Regions from separate parts of the Homo sapiens genome. Here all the other regions are linked to region 2. The links come from fine-mapping of genetic effects on gene expression. A gene starts in region 2. Each other region holds a variant in brackets. All regions are shown on one strand. Distances are between the middles of the regions.

Evidence for each region. PIP is the estimated chance that this variant, and not a neighbour inherited with it, causes the effect.
Region 1: its variant is the best candidate, but not a certain one, in a credible set for the expression of PLEKHA1 in blood mononuclear cells (TOPMed, PIP 0.54).
Region 3: its variant is the best candidate, but not a certain one, in a credible set for the expression of PLEKHA1 in whole blood (INTERVAL, PIP 0.59).

The regions. Positions count from the first base shown.
Region 1 is chr10:122,392,167-122,399,727 of GRCh38, forward strand. It overlaps PLEKHA1 (pleckstrin homology domain containing A1), which reads left to right. Exons shown (of 12, transcript NM_001001974.4): 2 at 1,015-1,175; 3 at 5,752-5,808. The coding sequence starts at 1,035. Among named protein-coding and RNA genes, the nearest start is that of MIR3941, 21 kb to the right of the region's middle. The variant CTT/C (reference allele first, on the strand shown) is at 3,046.
Region 2 is chr10:122,370,729-122,378,289 of GRCh38, forward strand. It overlaps PLEKHA1 (pleckstrin homology domain containing A1), which reads left to right and starts at 3,980. Exons shown (of 12, transcript NM_001001974.4): 1 at 3,980-4,078. RefSeq lists silencers at 3,688-3,837, 3,978-4,087, 4,128-4,197, 4,218-4,377, 4,388-4,587.
Region 3 is chr10:122,420,119-122,427,679 of GRCh38, forward strand. PLEKHA1 (pleckstrin homology domain containing A1) reads left to right here. Exons shown (of 12, transcript NM_001001974.4): 9 at 4,081-4,145; 10 at 4,778-4,841; 11 at 6,824-6,913. Among named protein-coding and RNA genes, the nearest start is that of MIR3941, 6.9 kb to the left of the region's middle. The variant C/T (reference allele first, on the strand shown) is at 3,547.

The DNA of each region.
Region 1 (7,561 bases), 21 kb after region 2:
AAGTTGCAGTACTTTAGGACCAGAATATGATACACCTTTTAAGTCTATTTTAATCTATAATGTCTCTCTTTTTCTTTTTTTTCTTGTAATAATTTACTTGCTAAAGAAACTTTTTTTTTTCCTTTGTTTCTTATAGTCTGGCTCTTGCTGATTGAATTCCTTTGGTGCAGTTTAGCATGTTCCTCTGTGTTCTGCATCTCCTGTAGGTTGGTATTTGGATATAGAGGGGATCTAAAAAACATTTTTTCTTGTTGCTTTATGTTCACATGATAGGTGATGTTTGTGTCTTCCATCAGGAGGCACATCATACCTGCTTATCTCTCTTTCCAGTACATTAACTAGTTTATTTTGATTCACTTTAGTTTTAACAATTCAAGGGTTTTTTAGAGAGGATGGTGTAGAGCATAAGATAGGAGATCTAGAGTGCGGTAATCTGGATTCAGGCTTTGACTCTTGGCCTACTAGTTTTGGAATTTTGGAAAATCACTTCCCCTGTGTATTAAGTTCCTTATCTGCTGGGGATGATTATGCCTACTCCTAGGATTGTTTAGAAGATTAAAAGAGTTAACATATGGAAAAGAACCTTGTACAGAGCCTAGCATGTAGCAAGTGGTCACTAAATTTTAACTTTTGTTGTTTTGTGAATTTAAAAATATTCTAAAATAATCTAAAGGATAGATTATCTTGATTTGTGAGGAAATTAAAATTTGGATAACTATTTTTTTTGGCTCACCTGGGGTTTTTTTAGGGAAAAAGTAAGTAAATTATTCAGCTGAGGTGAGTAGCTCTCTGTTGTCCCCATCACAGTGAATAAATAGTTACATTTAGTAACCACTCTTCACAAACTGAATTTCAAAAGTGATTTTTGTCAATGCCTCAGATGTTGGTGTGTGTTCATTTTAATTGACCTTACCTAATGTTGGCAAGTTGCCCCCTCATTGAACAGATTTGCAGTCCATGAGAAATACTTTCCTGTTTCATAGGGAGCTTACTGTTAATATTTTTATTTTACAGTGTAATGTTCAAGCTCAGAAATGCCTTATGTGGATCGTCAGAATCGCATTTGTGGTTTTCTAGACATTGAAGAAAATGAAAACAGTGGGAAATTTCTTCGAAGGTACTTCATACTGGATACCAGAGAAGATAGTTTCGTGTGGTACATGGATAATCCACAGGTTTGTAAAATCCCAAGGATTATCTTTTAAAAGCACAGAAAGTTGTATTTAAGTATTTAACATACTATACAGGCTTTAGATTTGTCTTCTTAAGCAGTATATTTTTAGATTTATTTCTACTGGCTGTCCTCTCTGCCCTGCACCCCTGACCTCTACTGTTTTGTTTGAATTTCAGAAGGTGAAACTAAGTTTATTTGATAAAAATTAATGCTTCTGTATATATTTTTCCCTCGAGAGAGAAATACTCTCTCTGGTGGCAAATTAGGTTTTAGAAAATTAGAACTTGAGTCACAGAAAAAAATAACAATTGAAGCTGTCCCAAAAATAAGAAATACTTTTTTTGTAACATGTATTTCAAACAACAGCTAAAATAAAGACCAGGGATAGATGATTTTCTTGCATTAAGGAGGCTTAATACCAGGGTCCCTTTAGTGAGATTAAATTTAGGTTTAAGATGCTGCATCTAGGATAGAGACTATTATTTTTAAATAAATAAATGACTTAACCACATGATACTCTTGCACATATGTAGTCCTTTTATTTTGTAGTGTCAGATTTGAGTCAGTCATTGTAATGCCATCCATGAACTGAAATGCAGTTTGATTTTATTGTTGCCTTGCAAAACACAGGGGTAAATGCTACAATTTAAAAAATTGGAATCCCAGCCTTAAGAGGCCTGAGATTAGATATCATCTGTGAAGTAGTTTTAAACTTTCAACTTTCTCTACTTTTTTTTTTTTTTTTTTTTTTTTTTGAGATGGAGTCTCTTATCACCCAGGCTGGAATGCAGCGGTATGATTTTGACTCACTGCAGCCTCTGCCTCCTGGGTTCAAGTGATTCTCATGCCTCAGCCTCCCGAGTAGCTGGGACTACAGGGGTGTGCCACCACACCTGGCTAATTTTTTGTATTTTTAGTAGAGACAGGGTTTTTCCGTCTTGGCCAGGCTGGTGTTGAACTCCTGATGTCAGGTGATCCTCCAGCCTCAGCCTCCCAAAGTGCTGAGATTACAGGCATGAGCCACCGCGCCCGGCCTTTTGGAACTTTTTATCTTCAAATAAAAATTGGTGTAGAAGTTAAAAATGGGGTTGTATGTTGCAAGGAAGTATGTGCAAAGCAAGGGATGAATCTCTAGCAGACTTCTAAGCTGATTTTTGTCCAGTAGGCTTCTCGTGTGGGTGAGGAATGGAAGGTCTAGGGAAGAGCAGAGACTTATACAAGGTTCTGTTCTGTTTCACAGAGCAGGAACTAGGTCTGCTGATAAGTAGTCTAGTATTCTTCACTATATACTGATTTTAGATTAGACAAGATATATATGTGTCTATAGTAGATACTAATGTGTGTATGTTTATTTATGTAGAATTTGAGTTGTAAGGGACCTCTCCTCACCCATATGAGCCATTGCACAGTTCTGCCTATTTTCTCTCCCTGATTTTTCTCTCTCTTCACAAGGTCTGGTTGACATATGTATGGTTTCTCCTGAATTTTACTTGAAGCTCCTTGATTATTTTTCTGTGTTCCTACATAATAGATTCTTCTTGTCATTCTTCCTTTATCAGTACTACCCATTTAGCAGAGCTAAAAGGAGTTAAGTACAAAATAGAATATATTTATTACCCTGAATAAAACTTGAACTTGGAATTCAGAGGAAAGTTACACAGCTAGTAGAAGGAGTTGAAGTCTTCATGGAAGTGGTAACATTTGAAATTGACTTAGAAGTTTGGATATAATATTGGCTAAGAGATGGAAAAGTTGAGTATTCCAGTGCTCAAAGAACAGTGTGGGCAGAGATCAAAGCAAGAGAGCCTATGGCGTGTTTGGAGACTAGATCACTTTGGCTATAGCACTCAGCTAGGTCTTGTCCACATAAA[CTT/C]TTAAAATCCAGATCTCTATGTTAGAATTAATGCATTGGCTTTTCTGGACACAGTGCCAGTTTTTTTTTTAAGTACAGAATTTAAATATTTTTTAGTTTGTTCTTATTAATTTTATATCTTCTTTCCAACTTAGGAAATCTTGATTCTGCCAGCCAGTGTATTAGCCATTAGTACCAACTTGGTGTCACTTTTAAATGTAATAATCAAGACATACCTACTCTTGAAAACTTTAGTAAAATGTCTTGCTAAGATTATTATATTATTTTCTTTCTTTATCAAGGTTATTATGTTCAGTATAACCGTGTTATTGCATCTTGACATAAGCAATTAGATTGAACCATATGAAATTGCTAATATACAGCCATTTTGAATTACTAAAAAAATGGCAATGTCATATGGTTCAATCTAGTTGCTTATGTCAAAGTATAATAACATGGTTATACTGATCATAATAACCTTGGTAAAGAAAGAAAATTAGTTTGATTCCTCTATTATTAGGAAGCCACTTCTTCCCCTGACCACTGCTTCCTTTACCACTAACCATGGGTTTAAAAATTCTTTCTAGTGTTTATTAGGGATCACTTTGGGGCTTCCTGTGTTTTGTCCAGGAGGTTGGTAATCATGGAGAATGAAATAATTAAGTTGCTGTACGAGGGAGTGCATTTGAAGATATTCGAAAAAGTATTTGGCAAAATGAGTTTAGGAACTCATAATCAACAAATGGCCTATTTCCCTTTTTTTCTTAAATGTTCTATTAGTTTGTTATTTCTTGTTCATTGTCAAGTAACAAATTTTGAATCTCATTTTTTTCCAGTCGAACCTGATGGTAATCATACTAGTCCACAGAAACTGCGTATTTTGAATATTGTTTTTCTCTCAGCTACTTAAATTTCCCCATAGTGTACTACTATTACTGTGACACTTTATGTCATGCTTTGGTTTCTCATTTGTCTTCCTTCCACAAAGGCTTAGAGCTCTATTCAGCAGTTAAAATAATAGGCTCATGAAAAACTGAAAAGAAATAAATTATTACCCTTAAATGGAAGGGTAACAGTTTTTGAAAAAATCACTTTGGTGGTAGTTAGAGATTCTTGAAGACATATTTACATTTCTTTTCCTTCTTTAAAGTTAAAAACCAAAAACCCATAAATCTAAAACGTTATACATAAGAATACAAATAGCTTTTTAATGTTATACATTAATGAATTATAATTTTATTTTATATGCATATTTACTATTGATGATTTATATTTGGAAGCTTGTACGTAGTATATAGTTTAAAGCAGAACATAATTAATGGAGTTTTACAATATATAGGTGTGAAAGTTTTTAAAAGATCTGTCCCTGTCAACAATAAGCAGTTCATGTTTGGGACTCTTAAGTCTTTGAAATGTCTAGGCTTCCAGTTACCTCCTAATCATTCATTAGAACAAGCCAATAGATTTTTATATTTTTAAGTACGTTATTATAAAGTCAGTTGAAAAGTTGATCCTGTCTTATCTCCAGCAGAAATAATTTTCAAAATCAACTAAAACTAATGTTTTCATTTTTACTTCTGAAATCTTCTATCAGTCTTTTATCAGTCTTCTATCATAGAAATGAAATTTATATTCTTGATTTGTTTTCCCCAGATTCTTTTGTCTGGTTTTCCTACCTCTATCTTCCTCTTCTATAATCCCTTCAGTTTATTATAAGATATATTATAAAAAGAGCATAATTTTGATTCCAGATCTGCTCATAAGCCTTCTTCGTTGGCCTCAAATTCTCTACGATATAAATTCTTTGCTACTTTTTTATTTAGGTCCTCTATGATTAGGTTCTCAGTTCAAGTTTTCAGACCACCATTTTGTACTACAATCTTACAGGACACTGCATTACAGCCCCACATAGCCCCCCTCTCTCTTTCTAGTACAGAGCTGTGCATCTTCCATTGTTTGCTATAGTTTGTCCATTTTCTCTGCTTGGAATATTCTCCCCTGCTTTTTGTGTTTCAAAATTTTCCTTAACCTCCAGCCTAAATGTTGTTCATCACTTCAGTCTTTCTGGATAGCTTCAACCAGAGATGATTCTCCCTCTATGTTTACCTTTAGCTCTTTTGATGCAAACCACATCTGAAACTTACGGGAAGAATGAAAATACTGTGTGTGAAAGTGCCTACATTCCCTGCATATGATAAAGAGAAGCAAACATTTTTTTGTGGAAAAAAAAGTATCAATGTAGATTAATATGGCATAAAAAACAGTAAACCATTTAAATGGGGGGAAATGCAGTCCATTTTTGTCAAGAGATACTTGATAAAGAAATTTTAATAGAACAAAGTAATATGTATAGTCTTTTTAAGTATCTTACAATTATATTTGTTTTCTGCCTGTAAATATTTCCCCCTTGCTTTCAGGAACAAAATCTGATCTTGTTCATGGCTTTTTAAGCTCATGAGAAAGTATTAGTTTAGCTCCAGTGATAAAAATAGCCTTTTAGTCATAGAATGCATGATAATGGAACAGAGTAGGATTCAGTTTTGTTATCCAAGCTATGGACTTGATTTCAGACCTAGTAAAAATTTGAACAGAAGAAAAGTTCATTTGTAAAATGTGATATTAAAAAATTGAGTTTTTAACTTTTCAGAAGTATATGTGGAACATTATATTATAAAATGAATTCATAATATTGGATATTAAGTATATATTAATACTTTGTTTCTAGAACCTACCTTCTGGATCATCACGTGTTGGAGCCATTAAGCTTACCTACATTTCAAAGGTAGTCTTTATACATTGTCTTATACTCGTGTGAATTAAAATCCCTGTGAATGAGAGTATGAATAGAAGCAGCAGTTTCCTTTCCATGTCCTTTAACAGTGATGTTCAGATTCCTATCATACTGAAATGGTACCTGATTACTACGTTTAGGAAATTCTTTAAATCGATACAGTTATGAAGAATATGATTTTAACTTACAGGATGTGGCAAATTGCAAAAGTTAACATTAACTTTTATGATCAGGTATATGAACATCAGAAAGGGAGAAATCAGTGAAACAAATTCTATCTTGAGAAAGTCTGGAGATTTTTCTAAGTCTGTATTATGTTTATTTAGACTGTTTTCAACTTTTAAATCCCATTGTCTTTGATACTTTGTTTCTTAATGTTTTATTTTGAGGAAAATATGGACCATTTTCATGTTGAAAGGATGATTTTCCCCCTCTTTTCACTTTGTCTCTTTTCATTTCTGTTTTCTTATTTGTTTTTCTGGTAATTTTGCAATACTATTTTTTATTTTTTAAAATTTTGATTTTATGTTTGTCAGGTACATTTTTTTCTTATTTTCTTCTATTAATGTTTAGGGAACTAAGTGATGCTGAGGTGCTAACCCTATGGGTTTGTGTGTGTGTGTGTGTGTGTGTGTGTGCATGTGTGTTACATAAAAGTAATAAAAGTTTGTTGATTACTTATATATGAGATGCAAAAGGTAGCAACAGTATTATTAAATAATATGGGTACTGTTATGCATATACTGAGATCTGTTGGCAAAGGTAGATCACTTCAACAGAAGACCAATTTACAAATGTGCCTCTGTTTAGAAGATAGATGTTATATAAATAAAATACTTTATATTAGTATTACAGTAGAGGTATTCATTCTCATTGACCAAAAAGAAAAGAAAAGAGCCCTTGGACAATAAAGATTACACATTTAAAAGGAAACATTTTTCTGTTAAGATCATACTATGTAAATTTACATACGACAAATATTGTATGGAAGCTCTTTCTTGAAATCAGTAAAGTAGGTGGGGTAACTGGCCAGCTGCTTTCCTCTCCTCCATTGCTCTTCTTTTAAAATAGAACCTTTTTTCTGTGCAGTTCTGTAACTTTCATCTTGTCCTCCTGCTTCCTGAAGTTTAAATTGTGCAGTTTGTACTCTACTTTGGACGTACCACTTTTTTTCCAAAAAAAAATTTATTGTTCCAAAAATTTATTTCTGGAACAAACTTTTGTGTGACTCAGAACTGTGAGTTTGTAGTTGGGATCAATGAGGAACCCCAGGCTTAGAATTCCTTTTGAAGGTGCAAAACGGATGCTACAATTATAAGTTCTATCACTGGACAACAGCATGGCAATAGTTGTGAATGAGCTTCTGGGAGGTACTTGATTTAAAGGGATAGCAGCAACCAAATGCAGCTAGTTGCCTCATCTTCTAAAATGAACCATGAGCTGCATTTAATAAAGTGATCCCATTATCCTAGGGCATTCTCCTGTACAAGAGAGGATCCAGTCCCATTTTGATCTCCTCATAGCAGATTAATGTCTTAATCTTAATTATTAAGATTAAGATTAATTCAATTAAATGCCTGGATTTGTGGACTTTATTTTTATTTTTATTTTTATTTTTTGAGATGAAGTCTCACTGTCTCCCAGGCTGGAGTGCAGTGGCGCGATCTCGGCTCACTGCAAGCTCCGTCCCCTGGGTTCACGCCATTCTCCTGCCTCAGCCTCCTGAGTAGCTGGGACTACAGGC
Region 2 (7,561 bases):
CTGAAGGAGGATTGTTCTGCCCCAGCCCTGGGATGCAAGAATTAGCTCCAGAAGGAGACTCCAGTCACCTGATTGGTAATCTGGGAAGGTCACTTAATCTGTGCCTGCTTGGGGTGATTACTGAGAATCATGCTTCCCCTCACTTGGTCATTGCCAGTTGTGAGGCAGGGTCAGAAAGCCAGCTCCGACTCTTCACCCACAGAAGCAACTCCACTGACTCGCTGCCTGGAGTTCTTGTGCCATTTTTACACTAAAAAATAGGGAAAAGCCGTTTTTAACTCTCTGCTACCCAGTTTCTGGAGGGGACACAAAAAGAACAAAGCCGGGTTCAGAGAGTGTTCAGTTCATGTTTAATTCTTGTTCTATCTTGGTTCTGATTTCTGGTTAGAACAGAGGTTTGCTTCTGGAGGTACTCCTTCTGCTTGGCTTCTGATGCTGGCTCTGTCCATAAAGGGGACTGTGGCATTCATCATTCAACACATACTTCTGTTGTAGGCACTAAGGATACAAGCAGGAACAAAACATAAAATCCCTGGCCACGTGGAGGTTACAGTTTAGAGGGATATGCAGAAAAAAAAATATATATGCACATATATAATATGTACAAAAGTGACCATTGCTAAGGGGAAAAAGATAATGCAGGAAATGCTGCAGACATCAAATATTAGAGAGGTGACTAGCATTCAGGAGCTTTCTGCGTGCCTCTGTACGCTGCTTTTTGTGTTGTCAGAGGGGCTGACGTCTGTCTGGAAGCCCCAGAGCCCAGCACTAAGCATATGGAAGGGGCCCAAGAGCTATTTTTGAATGAAACATCAACGTACTTCACACGTGCAAAGCATGATGATAATGATGACAGTGATACTTTAAAGGTAAACTGCAGGCTGGGGCAGTGGCTCACACCTGTAATCCCAGAACTTTGGGAGGCTGAGGAGGGGGGTAGATCACTTGAGGTCAGGAGTTCGAGATCAGCCTGACCAACATGGAGAAACCCTGACTCTACTAAAAATACAAAAATTAGCCTGTCATGGTGGCAGGCACCTGTAATCCCAGCTACTTGGGAGGCTGAGGCAGGAGAATCACTTGAATTCAGAGGCAGCGGTTGCAGTGAGCTGGGATTGTGCCACCACACTCCAGCCTGGGCGACAGAGCGAGACTCTGTCCCTTCCGGCAGAAAAAAAAAAAAAAGTAAACAGCTAAACTATAGATCCTTGAATTCAGACTCCTCCTTTTTCTTCAGATGAAAAGTAGCCATGGAATATTCCAGCATTCCTCAGTGCCTTCAGTGAGTCCTGAGTGTTCTTGGTTTGCTCCCAGACTGTAATTTCCCTGTACTATTTTTTTTTTAAATAGCACTGAAAGCACTGTTATGTAATAAACCTCTGCATCCAAAAAAAAAGAGGCTGGAAGAAAAGCAGAGAGCTTTTTTTTTTTGTCTCTGTATTTATTGGCTGATCGGGAGCTATGAAGTTCTGGTTATACTGCAACCTCAAAGCAGTCCTGGGATTATCTTGTTGTGTGTCCTTGGGCAAACTGAGTTACTTTTCTGGCTTTCTTTACTGTATGTAAATATGGCTCTCAATGATAAACAGTTTTGGGGACTTGTTATGCAAAAAGAACAAAGGAGCAATTTTTTTTTCTTGAGTCCCGTTCTGTCCCCCAGGCTGGAGTAGAGTGGCACGATCTCAGCTCACTGCAACCTCCATCACGTGGGTTCAGTTGATTCTCCTGCCTCAGCCTCCCGAGTAGCTGGGACTACAGGTGCCCACCACCATGCCTGGCTAAGTAGAGGGGGTTTCACCATGTTGGCCAGGCTGGTCTCAAACTCCTGACCTCAAGTGATCCGCCCACCTTGGCCTCCCAAAGTGCTGGGATTACAAGCAGGAGCCATCACATTGGCCAAAGGAACAATTTCAAACCACTCATCAATGATGTCAAACAACATTTAGGAGAGAGATCCGGCGGGTCCAGCCTGGAGAGGGTGAGAGGCTCTTGGCCTAAGTGTTCTATTCTCAGGACCAGTATTTTCAGATCAAATAAAAGATGTGAATTTGACTTTGAATTTCAAATAAACAAATTTCCCATCTGGAATCTTCTAGGATTCTAGCACTGACAAGCTAGAGACTCCTTCCAGACCTTCTAGCCAGGGAAGGCAAACTCAAATGCCTACAGGGATAAGACAGGTGACACCTAGATTTTTATTTTTAAATGTTAACCACACATTCAGTTAAATCAACAAAAACCCACTGTGTGGACCAAAGGAAACAATCTGCTCTGGCTACTTTATAAACTATAGTGAGGCCAAACCCTTTCAACCATTATACAGATGAGGACCCCAAAAGGGACAGATGTCAGCAAGGCTGCATAGCTAAGGTTTCTCAAAAGATAACCAAAATATCACGTTGGATGAAAGGCAATTGAAAATGCTAAGTCTCAAAGAGGCAGTCAGAGAGCCGTTCTATGCAGTTTGCAAGATGTTTTCACCTCCATCAATTTATCAGACTCTGAGAACATTCTGCAAGGCAGGCAGGGTGGATGACACTCATTTACAGTCGAGGTCACTGAGGGTCAGAAGGGCAAAGTGTCACTCTCTGCATAAAGTCACATAGGTAAGTCTACACAGGAAAATCTAGGGCTGTTCTTCACTACACCTCTGATTCAGATAACAGGTAGGCTTCCTCTAAGATTTTAATAAAGACAAACTCAAAATCCTGTATGATGCCCCATGAAGAGAAACAAGTCAGGAGGCCAGGCTGAGCCCCCAGACTTCTAACCCAGTTCGCAAATAAAGAAAGTGGCAAAGTAGATAGATTCCAGCCTGTCACCAGGGTTGTGTCTTCTGTCCTAGCAGCTGTACAGCTTGTCTTACCACTGGACATTTGTTTCATGTACATTTTCACATAGGAAGGATATTCTAAAAGATGTTGATAAAGATTTTTTAAAGGGTTTGAAGGGGATAGGATGTGATCTAAGGTTGTGCAAGGAGAGGAAAGGAAGAAGCACACAAAAAGAACAAATATTTATTAAGAGCCTAGAGTGGCATGCGCTGTGAAAGGCGTGGCATGTAATTCTTTCCCAGTTCTTTGCCTGTCTGAATATTTCTCATTCTTCAGGTTTCAGCTCAGATATCACATCCTCAGAGAACTTGCCTTGCCACTCTCTCTGAAGAGCCTCCCCCCGTCCCCGCCACCGCTACTGTCTCTTGAACTTTCTCAGTCTGGCCATTCTATTAAAATCTGGAACGATTTTGCTAGTTTGCGGACGAGTTTCCCCCAAGCTGCAGGCTCCATAAGGGCAGTGACAGTGTCTCTTTCTCAGATGAATGCCGGGTTGCCTATCGCGTACTTGGCACACAGTTAAGTGCTCGAGAAATTGCTAAACACTCAACGAATATTTACCAGAATACATATTTATGCTCCACCGTTGCTGAAAGAATTTCGACTAACCCTTCTTTAAGTCTCTCTTACCCTCCTGTACTATTAACACCATTGTAAGTAGGCAGTGGAGCTACATTTGCAGGGAGAGAGAAGAGCGAAAAATTGGCGCGCAGAGCTGTAAAGCGTTTTTCTCCAGGTCACACCGCAGCCTGTAAATTTGTGACACTTGGACCGATTATGGGACAGCTTGCAAACAAATTATCTGCAAACTAACGAAGCCTATTTTTAAAGATCCCTGTTCCTCGCAGCTCTAGGCGATGACATCAGAGAACCCGGAGTTCTACCTCCGAGCCAAGCCCAGTGGTGGTCAAAAACTACGAATACCAGGAAGCACCGCGGCGCGGCGGCCCAGAGCTCCGCGCGCAGGCCTCCCCGGCGCGCCGAGGCCGCCGCCGCTGGAACCAGGAAGACGCCAGAAACTCGGCCCGCCACGCCGCAGGGACCCGCGCGGGGCCTGCCGGGACTCGTAGTCTCTGCGGGCTGGGAGCGCCCGCTCCGGAATCTCAGCCGCCGTCTGAGGGCTGAGGCAGCGTGGGGACGCGTGCGCAGTGCGCGGGCTGGCCGTCGCGGACGCCGCTCCGGGCAGCCGAGCCTCTGTGGGAGCCGGGGCCGCGGCGGCGCGGGTGCTCCGGGCCGAGGCCGCGGTAAAGTTTAGCTTGAAGAACGCGGCCGCGCTGGAGCAGGGGTGGTGGACGGGGCCAGGCGCGAGGTGGCGGCGGCTGCGGGGCTGCCGGGCTGCTGGAGCGCGGTTCCCGCTGTGGCGAGCGGGGAGGCGTCCGCAGAGGGGCGGTGGGTGCTGGTGAGTGCGGAGCCGGCGCCCCCTCTGCGCACGTCCGCGCCACGCGCCACAGCACCTGGAGGCCGCCGGGCCGGCTCACCTGCCCTGGCTTGGGGCAGCGGGAGGGGGCGGCGTCTTCTTCCCGTGGGTCCCCGATTGTTTTCCCGACGTCAGCCCTCAGCGGCGCCCGGCGGGGGAGGGCGGGAGGCCCGCGGCGGTCGCGGGGCCGACGAGCTCCTCGGCGTCTCCGCCCCCCGAGAAATCCCGCTCGGGGCGCGGTGCGCGCAGCTGCCCGGGGATTCCCGGTGGCGCCGGTCGGAGCGCCTCCCTCCAGGGCTGTGCCCGCGGGGCGCGCGTCCCCGGGCATCCTTTCCTGGTGTTTAATGCATTTTGGCTTCAGGACTTGCCGAGGCCGAAGCCGGCTCCGCCCTGGGCCCTGAAGTCGGGCGGTGTCCGCGATTTACCTCCGCACCTTCGGGGCAGGTGGCCAGAGGCAGCGTTGAAAGCGACTTGCCCAAGGTCACGCAGGTGGCACCGGGGAGGCGACCAGACCCAGGTCTTTCGACGCCGAGGCCAGCTGCCAACCGCAGAGCTTTGGGGCCGTCTTGAGTGGTTTGTGGTTTGTTTCAGATGCTTTCTATTGACCTCCTGGAAAGAGGGGAAAGTGTGTCATAATGAAAGCGGTCCTGTTGCTTATAGTGTTTACCGCCTTTGGTAGAATTCTGGTGAGGCTGTGCCCCCGCGCAGAGCATCTACCGTGGTCTGGGCGTATAAATAATGAAACTCCTTTGCTCTCTGGGGGCAGTACAAGAAGAGGTTCAAGGAACAAATAAATATCCAGGCAGTTTCTGCGTTTTCCTCGTCTGTTTGTTTCACCTTCCAATTCTGCAGTACTGGTTTTCTTATTTTACAATTGATCGTTGTTTTAATAAGATTTTCTTTGTTTTAATGAAGTCATTGCCCCTTGTGAGTTAGTTTTCTAAATAGAAAATCTTATTTCCTGTGTGTTTAATGACTGGAACAAATAGTGCACTATGAGGTTTACACCATTGTCTTTCATCTTAGAACTCCTGATCAATCTGCTTTATTTTCCCAAGTACTCAGCTTGCATACTTTCTATGTTAATTTGATGCCACTGAAACCATTTACAGCAAAGTTTGGGTAAGAGTTATGTGATTGTTTTGTGAAACTGTGTTTTTCTTCACAATCTGAAGAACTTGAAGACCCGTTATATTAAAATAATAAGATTTATTCTGATCAAAATACCTGTTTACTTTTCATGCTCTTAATTTTTCCTGTTGACACACTTGTGGCAAAAGAAATATTTCCCCTAGTGGAGTTAAAGTATTTTTTATCTTGGCCAATTTTCCCAAGGAAAATTGCATTTTAGAGTACTGATACATTTAAAAAAGAGTATTTAAGTTTGACAGAATTTGAATTAATAAAGTAGTTAATTTATTTTATACTGCCGTAAACCTTACACTGTATCTACTGACAGTTTTCTCTTGTAGCGTATACCTGTATCAAGATATATGGCTGTGAATTTAGTGACATTAAGAAGATATATATATATATATATATATATATATATATAATATAAATATATGTGTATACACACCGCGCGGGCGCGCGCAGAGCTTCCAATCTTTATCTTGTTAATTAGTATTTTCATTGTCGCTTTGGGAGGGGGGAAAGTAGCAGGTTTGTATCTTTTTTTCTCCCCAGTTTTAGCAGTGTAACAAAATAGGAAAGATGGTGTGTAAAATTGAGTTTGTCATAGACTAGGAGAGACAGTGAAACAGGATAAGTATACAATTGTGAGGAAACTGCCATGAGTTCATAAGCCGGAAGGACCTTTTTAGAAGTGTTTAAGGATGTTAAGAATAGCATTGGATTCTTTTCTTTAAAAGTCATTCAAGTATCGTTTGCTAACATATAGGATATGACAATATTGACCACTCCTAGGAAGATACTTGGGAAAGGTGGAAACATTTTACATTTTTATGGGGACTTCCCCCCACAAAAAACATTTAATGGAGATTTAAACAAAGTGGCTTTTTGACTTAAGCCTGGAAGTTCTTTATTATTATTAGTCATGCTGCAAATCCCGAAGTTATTTTAATTGTGTGATAATTTGTAACCCAGAATGAAATCTAATAAATAGTTTATTAATATAATTTAAGTCATACTTTGACATTGACATATTGCTTGATGTCAAGTCATTATTGTTTAAATAACTTATTTGAGAATGGGGAAGATAGTTTTCTGAATATAGTGTAGTAATTATTTGTGACAATAGTAACATTGCTTTTATTAGAAAATTTTGGGTTGATATAACTAACTGCCTTAAAGTATTTCCTATTTGATTCCAACTGTGAGCTGAGGTAATATGCAAATAATTACTTTTCTCATGCTGGAGCAGTTTACTTTTGTTAATATTAAAATTTAAATTTCAAGATTAAAAAATCTTGTTTTAGATCTGCAATGATACAATAAAATGACTTCAATAGGAGTTAAATATTAAGATTTGGTTTTAGGTTTTTTGACCATTTGTGAGTACACATCCAGCATTTAAGAATTTATTGACATGGTGTCTGAAAGGAATGCTTTCAGAAAGGGCAGAAAACTTGGTAGCTTTAGATGATTGTTTATAATGCTTAATTATTTTTAGAAACATAAAAATATGGGATGTTTTTATGTAAACATAAAGCATCCTGTTATTTGTTATAGCACTAGAACTCTCTTACACTTACTGAGCAATATTAAACCATTTGACCCTAAGTAACTTTTTTTCTTGTGGGTACTGTCTAATAAGGGATATGTGAGTTTGTGATTCCTAGAAGATGCTTAAGCAAACATATGTTTGCTATTTATTTTAGTAAGCCTTTTAATTAGTTGAATTGATAATATTCAGGAAGATAGGGTTTTTGGGATTTTATAAGCTTTCTTTGAACTGGAATTTCTGTTGGATATAAAAGAAAATTAGTCATTTAAGATTTTTTTAAGTTAAATAAGTTTTAGAGCAAAATATTGTTTCCTACATGGAACTCTTACCAGGCTTGTCAGTCTGATAGCTTTATTCTCCAGAAAGTTGTGGTTTTTAGCCCTTTAGGCAGCCTAGCCTTTTATGGTTTAACCATTGAACTCTAGATTCTGGATTGAATTTAACCTCTTGAAGGAAAAGACGATCACAGGCACTAGAATTGGAAGTGATGTCAGAGGGCTTCTAATGTAGCATCTTACCCGGTACAGTAAATCCCTCCTGAGAATTTCCATGTCAGGTGTTCCCTCCCATTATTAAGGATGAGAATGCTATTGCATATGTCATCAGGTTATTCAGCAGTCCAAG
Region 3 (7,561 bases), 49 kb after region 2:
TACTGCATCACCAACACTCTTTTTGGCACAAAGAATGGCTTGGAGTGAAAAATATGGACATTGGTGGCTCCAAGTCAAAAAGTGATTCAGAAGATCTGGAATCTGAATGTGAAATCTTAAAAACTATAACCAGTTTATCTTGTCTATATTTTTCTTTTTTATATATGCTCAAGAATAATATATGATAAAAATGTTTAAAGTGTAAATGGGCTCTTTTATAAAACCTTTTCATCATGGAAAAGTGTAAACATACCCTTTTAGTAGATAGAAATAATACATGGAACCTGCATATACCCATCACCTAGATGTCATAATTGTTAACACATGGCTCAGCTTGTCTTGTTTCTTCTGTTTCACCACCCACTTCCTGCTTCATATTTTGAGGCAAATCCTAGATGTCTCCCATTTCATCTGTAAATATCTCAGTGTGTATCTCTAAAAGATCATTTAAAAATTTTAAAAATAAGTATAAAAGACTTAAGTGCACAGCCGAAAAATTGGTGAAAATATTTGCAACATGTATTAGAGATAAAACTTACAAGGAATCTTAAAAACTGAGGGGATTTTTCCTCACCTACTTTGCTCTCTTTTCCTTCCATCAATCTGAAATGACTCAGACTCTAATTTATTAGGTGAGGCAAAGCAACATAGGCATCCAAGAGGAACCAGTGTAGCTTTGTGTGGGTGTCAGAGCCCACGCAGGACAAGGAGGCTGTCCTCTTGGGGGGTTAGCCCCACGCGGAGTAGGGAGAGAAGGGCATCCACATGGGGAGGGGTGGTGGCAGAGATGGGAGAATGGTCACATACACACTGATTGATAAAATCAAGAACTATATTAAGGATAATAGAAGCCAAATCTTGTCAGAGAAACAATACTTTTTGGTGAATGGATGTATATCTGTATGTATGATGAGGAATGAAATATTTACATAGTTTCAAAGTACCTGTCTACTAAAATAGGTATTAAGTGTTGTACAAGGGGGAAAAGAATAACATTACAGTGAGGAAACCTGGCAGATACCACTTTACTCAGGTGGTCAGATGATTAAAGTGAATGTCATTGGTAATGAGGTAAATTGAAATCACCTGACAGGATAGTGGAAGACGAAGACAGCATCACTTCTGTGAAATCCCTGCCCAAGGTATGTAATCAGAATCCCATCATGAGGCACACCCAAATGAGGGACATTCTACAAAATAACTACCTTGCAATCTTCATAGAGTGAAGATTATGAAAGTCAAGGAATAATGAGGAACTGTTCCAGACTGAGGGAAAGAAAATATTTGACAAGCAGATGGTATTCGTGCTTCTGAACTGAATTCTTTTGCTCTAATAAAAGACATTTTGGGCACAGTTTTCTGATTCTGATGATTGTATTGTGATTATGTAAGAGAATGTAGGAAAAGTATTCAGGGGTAGTGTGGGACAGGTCAGCAACTCACTCTGAAATGGTTCAGGAAAATCAGTTCTTTATGCTGTATTTTCAATCCTTGTATAAATTCGTGTTTGTTTCAAAGATTAAAAAAAGAGAGAAAATGGAGGGGAAAATACCTGGTAGGCAAATGAACAAAAGACATGAATAGGCAATTCATTTAAAAATTAAAATAGGTCTTAAAATATTTAAAAAAATTCAGCATCACTGATAATTAGAGAAATGCAAATTAAAACTGCAATGAAATATTCTCATCTGTCATGAGAAGGTTGTGGCTGAGTTAAGAGATTGGCAAATCCCCACCCACCCTGCCCAAAAGCAACTGTAAATGCCATTCTGTAAACAAAAGGAATCAGGAACCCTTGGTGATGTGACTGATTTCAGAGCTGGGGCAGATAAAGTACAAGCTGAGCTCAGAAAGTGAAGTTGTGCCAGAGGATAAGGAAGTGGCTCAGAGAATGAATGGAACATGTCAAAAGGACACAGAAATTACCTTGAAGGAGCTGACCAAAATGCAGACAATTTAAACAACAAAATAAGTAATGATAGTAATGGAATATAACCCATAGAATAAAAATGAGTCATAAATAAATAAATGGAGAAGGAAAAATATTTCCTTAGAGTAAAATTCTATTTAATATATGTAGATGGATTGATGGGGTTAGAAAAATCACCATTTGGCAGCCACTAGTAATGGTTTCAGGCAGGAGTTTTCAGGGTTTGATAAAACTAGTTGCAAAATTATGATGGGAAACCTGGTATTACTATAGGTTCCAGGTATCTCCCCACAAGATACTTAACAGTGACAAAGGGAAAAAGTAATTTTACAGCTACTGGCAAACATGACCTTAAGCAACAGATCAGGGTTAACACACCAGTGACAGGACAAGCCACCATCGGGTGTGTACCTCCTAATAGTGGTCCACTGAGAAGAACAGTGTCATGTCTGTGGCTTCCTGTCAAAAGTGTATAAACTGAATCTCAGCACGAATAACAGGCAAACCCAGACTGGGAGGTGTTCTACAAAAATAACTGGCCTGCACTTCTTTAAACTCTGAAAAACGAATGAAGAACTATTCCACAGTTAAAGGCGACATGACAGCTACATACATGGTATGATCCTGGATTTAACTCTGGATCAGAAAATGGTTTTTGTGCTGTAAAGAATACAGGTAGGGCAATTAATGAAATCTGAAGATGGTCTGTAGATTATAGTATTGCATCAGTGTTGAGTTTCCAGTTTTCATAATTGCACTGTGGTTATGCAAGAGCACATCCATGTTTTAGGAAATACACACTGAAGCGTTTAGTAAAGGTACATCATATTTACAACTTAACCTTCAAGCATTTCAGGAATCTATATATATACATATACTCTGTCACACACATATATAAACATAAACAGATAATGATAAAGCAAATGTAAAATATCAACAGTTTAGAAAACAAGGTGTAGGTTATGCAGAAATTCTTTGTACTGTTTTTCTCAGTCTCTTATTAAGTGTGAAATTATTTCAAAATTAAACTATTTTGTAAAACTTTTTAAAAAAGATCTATGATTTTTTTTTTTTTTTTTAAAAAAGCACTCCCAGCTGGGCGTGGTGGCTCACGCCTGTAATCCTAGCATTTTGGGAGGCCAAGGTGGGCAGATCACCAGAGGTCAGGAGTTTGAGACCAGCCTAGCCAACATGGTAAAACCCCATCTCTACTAAAAGTACAAAAATTAGCTGGGCGTGGTGGCAGGCGCCTGTAATTTCAGCTACTTGGGAGGCTGAGGCAGGAGAATTGCCTTGAACCCAGGAGGCGGAGGTTGCAGTGAGCCAAGATCGTACCATTGCACTCTAGCCTGGGCAACAAGAGCGAAACTCCATCTCAAAAAAAAAAAAAACAAAAAAAACAACAACACTCTGTCATGGTTTAGTTTTATTTTTGGTGCTACATAAAGTAATGGTATGTCTTAATCTCACGCTGTCATATTCAATGAAATATGTATATTGTATTTTATGGAATGTATACTAGAAATATGCTATTAGGAACCAGTTTTATATTTGTATCTTATATCTACTTTGTAACCTTGGGTGAGATACTTAACATGTCTAATCTGCAGTTTCAG[C/T]ACATGAATAGTAGTACATGTGTTGTAGGGTTGGGGAAAGTGTGAGATAAAACATTTAAAAGCTAGCAGATGTCTCAGCACTTAGTAAACATTCAATTTTGTATTTATATAAAAGTGATATTTGTAAAATCACAAATTTAAGTCAAAGAAGCAGGATGTGCACTTGCTCTGCTGCCTTGTATATCAAAGTGACATTCCAGAAAAGGAGATGCTGTGCATACTGGTACGTGGGTCCGTCGGGGAAAGTCTGATGGCTAATAGCTTTTAATTAGTTACACTGCCCTTAAGGCCAGAAATAATGTGAATAAGGGCCGTATGCAGTTTTTCTTGTTTCAAACAACAGTGTATATAAGGTTATAGTGTTTGAGCTATTCAGATGCTGGATGGTTTAAGAAGGTAGATTTATTTCTGAGATGTGCTTCAGAAAAGAAGTGTGATTTTCACATGGGTCTTCAAATAAGACAGCTAACCTTTGAAAGGATTTTAAGAATAAACATCATGTAACTGTTTTTTTTTTTTTTTTTTTTTTGCCAGGAAAAGGAACCTCTTCGTGTAATACCACTTAAAGAGGTTCATAAAGTCCAGGAATGTAAGCAAAGGTAAGGAACCGCTCTGACTTGATGCCTGGCACAAGTTATAAACACAGAATAGTGCCTTAGTTTGAGTAATGTACTTACAGATTACATTTTTCCATATTAATTGTAGTTATTTTTAACTCTTTATAGTTGAGATACACTAGAATTTTCAAAACCCTCAGAGTAAAGTATTGAACTACTTTGTTCATTTGAAAACTAAAAATTAGGAAAGAATCGTTTATTTGTTTCTTTGAAAACTAAAAATACAGAAACAGCTTACTAATGGAAAGGAATAAATTTAATGTGAACAACTTATGGTTAGGCCATCAGATTTGACAAATTGATGTATTAAGTGTTTAAAAGATGCAGTAGAATAGAGCTTCACAAGAAAATGTGTTAGCTGTGACAGTGTTTCACCAAACTGATTACTAAAAACTCTGAACTTTAAAGTTGCTTTGTGAACTTTTTCTAAAAGTGAAACTACATGAAATATGTAAAATCTTACATTAAAATAAATGGGAAAAGATAATTTGGGTTTGCTAAATCAGTGCTTTACCTCATTTATTTATTGACGCATACTGGGTACTGGGTAAACAAATGAAAGAGAAACTCAAACAACTGCTATTTAAGTATAATTGGATTTTTTTTTCATACAGCGACATAATGATGAGGGACAACCTCTTTGAAATTGTAACAACGTCTCGAACTTTCTATGTGCAGGTAAGATGCTTATTTGGCAATTAATAGATCCTCCTAAAAAGAAATTAATAATATTAGAGGTGAAATAAACATAAACAAGCTTGTTGCACTTGAGGTTAAAAAAATATGACAACTGTAATTCACCAGCTTAATAAAAGGGTACTGTATATAGAGTTATTGGTGGGGTTATATGTTCAGGAAGTGGGAGTATTTGTTATGAATTAGTGAACTAGAACTAAGTATTTAGAGAAAGGGAAATGCTTTTAATTTAGATGTTAAGTGTGTACTTTCAAGTTGGATTATTTTTGCACATGTTTTAGAATTTTGATTTTTCTATTATATCATTTTTTGGTAACCTTATTAAAAAAACCCATAGTAAAAGTAGACAGTAGATTTATATAGTTTCACTAATAGTAGGCATCCTGTATTTAAGTTTAAATTGTACTTTTTGCATACTTCATTGAATTATTTAAATGGAAAATTTTAAAAAAAGATTTGGGCCGGCTGTGTTGGCTCACACCTGTAATCCCAGCACTTTGGGAGGCCAAGGCAGGCACATCGCTTGAGTCCAGGAGTTCGAGACCAGCCTGGGCAACATGGCAAAACCCCATCTCTACTAAAAATACAAACATTAGCCAGCCGTGGTGGTGTGCAGGCTTGTAATCCTAGCAACTTGGGAGGCTGAGGCACGAGAATCGCTTGAACCCAGGAGGTGGTTACAGTGAGCTGAGATCGTGTTACTGCACTCCAGCCTGGGTGACAGAGACCCTGTCTCAAAAAAAAAAAAAAAAAAAAAATCAAAAAGGGATGATTTGTTTTTGTTTTATTGAAGTTAAATATGCTTATTCCAGAAAACTTGGAAAATATAGAAAGATTTCAGAAAAATGTGGCTTATAAAACATTCAGTCCCACATTGAGGCAACCATTCTTATGATTTTGCTCCCTTTCTTAAGGTATATATTTTTATAATAGGTGGGGTCATACTAAATATAGTGTTATATCCTATTTGTTTCATATATTGTTATTTTTTTCCCATGTCATTAAAAATTATCTGAAAACCTTTTAGAACTGCACCATACTCCATTGATGTTCCACCAGTAAATTGTGTCTGTATTACTCTGTTGCTGTATTGTGTCTGTGTTACTCTGTTCATGTGCATAGTTTTTGTACATTTACTGTAATAAAATGATGAAAAACATCTTTGTGCATTACTTTGCCTGATTTCTTTAGGGTAAGTTTCTAGATCGAGATTAACTATCAGAGCATGACCCTTTCTATTTTGTCAAATTGATTTCTAGAATTGTATTTCCATTAGTAATGAATGAAGTATACTCTACCTTTGGCTACTTGTATTTTTTTTTTTTTTTAGTCTTTGTTAATATTACTTATTCAAAAATATTCTGCATTTTAAACTTTTTCATATTTCTAGATTCTAGAAGTGTAAGGGATTCTAGAATCTAGAAACAAGAGGCAGTATCTCTGCACCCCGATTGGGGCCTTATTTAATTGGATTAATTTCATAGTAAGGTTTAAAATTCACATTGAAAGCCAGACGTATCTGTCAATACTTATTGTAGGATTTAGGGTACTACTAGAAATTATTTCCAGAAAAATATGTAAAAGAATGTCAGAATTTTTAAAAATTACACAACTACATAAATATTCTTGTAGCAGATTCAGACAGTGTAGCAGTAGGTAGAGTGAAATAAGAAGGGTTTTTCTTGGACTTCCTCCTCTCCTTGTTTTCTGTCTGGAGGTATTCATTATTGACGCCTGTTGATGGGTCTGATCTTGACATTGAAGTGCTCAATTTATGTCTCTGTGTAGTTAAGACCTAGCAAAACCTGGCTTTAAAAAAATGATTTCTAAATTTTTTGGAAACAGTTGCCTTAGAGTGATTTTGTTGATGACAGTATTTTAAGTTATCAAAATAAATACATTGGCTGTATAGAAGTAGGTGATTTTGAGAAAAAATTGTTTGAATGAGTTCTTTTTTCCTTTAGGCTGATAGCCCTGAAGAGATGCACAGTTGGATTAAAGCAGTCTCTGGCGCCATTGTAGCACAGCGGGGTCCCGGCAGATCTGCGTCTTCTGTAGGTTTCCTGCTCTCTGGGGTGATACTCCCTTGCGTCTCCCCCATCCTATCAAATTTCCTCTCTCCCAATCCATCCGGTTTCTTTCTTTCTTGAGATTTATTTGCATGTTGACTTTTATACCAATTGGACTTGCAAAAAATAATGCATTTCTAATTTAATGCTTCCTTGTAGTATTATGTATACATAACTTTCTGTGCATTGTATTGTGTTAAATGCACAAGTAGGGCAACTAAAGAATAAACATTTCCTTGCTTTGTTTTAGGAGTTCTTACTTGTCAGTAGCTCTAGATTTGGCATAATCTGACAGATTCTTAGTATGGTGTGTGATCAGGATCATGTAAGACTTTTAGTTGTAGCGTTACACAGTTTTGTGAACGTCTCAATTTCCTCTTTACTTCCTCTGATTTCAGTTCAGGTTTTTTGGTTTTGTTTTGTTTTTTACCTTTGGCTTAACCATGCCATCAGATCACTGAGCAGCTGGGGCCTTAAATACAGTTCAGTGCTCCCAGTGTTTCCATTTCATGTTTTAATTCTCATTTTAAAACCTGCTTTAACAGCCTGCTTCTGAAAACTACCATAATTATCTTTGTGGTAGTATGATAATAAAATTGAAATACAACTAAACATTCTGCTCAGAAATATTTT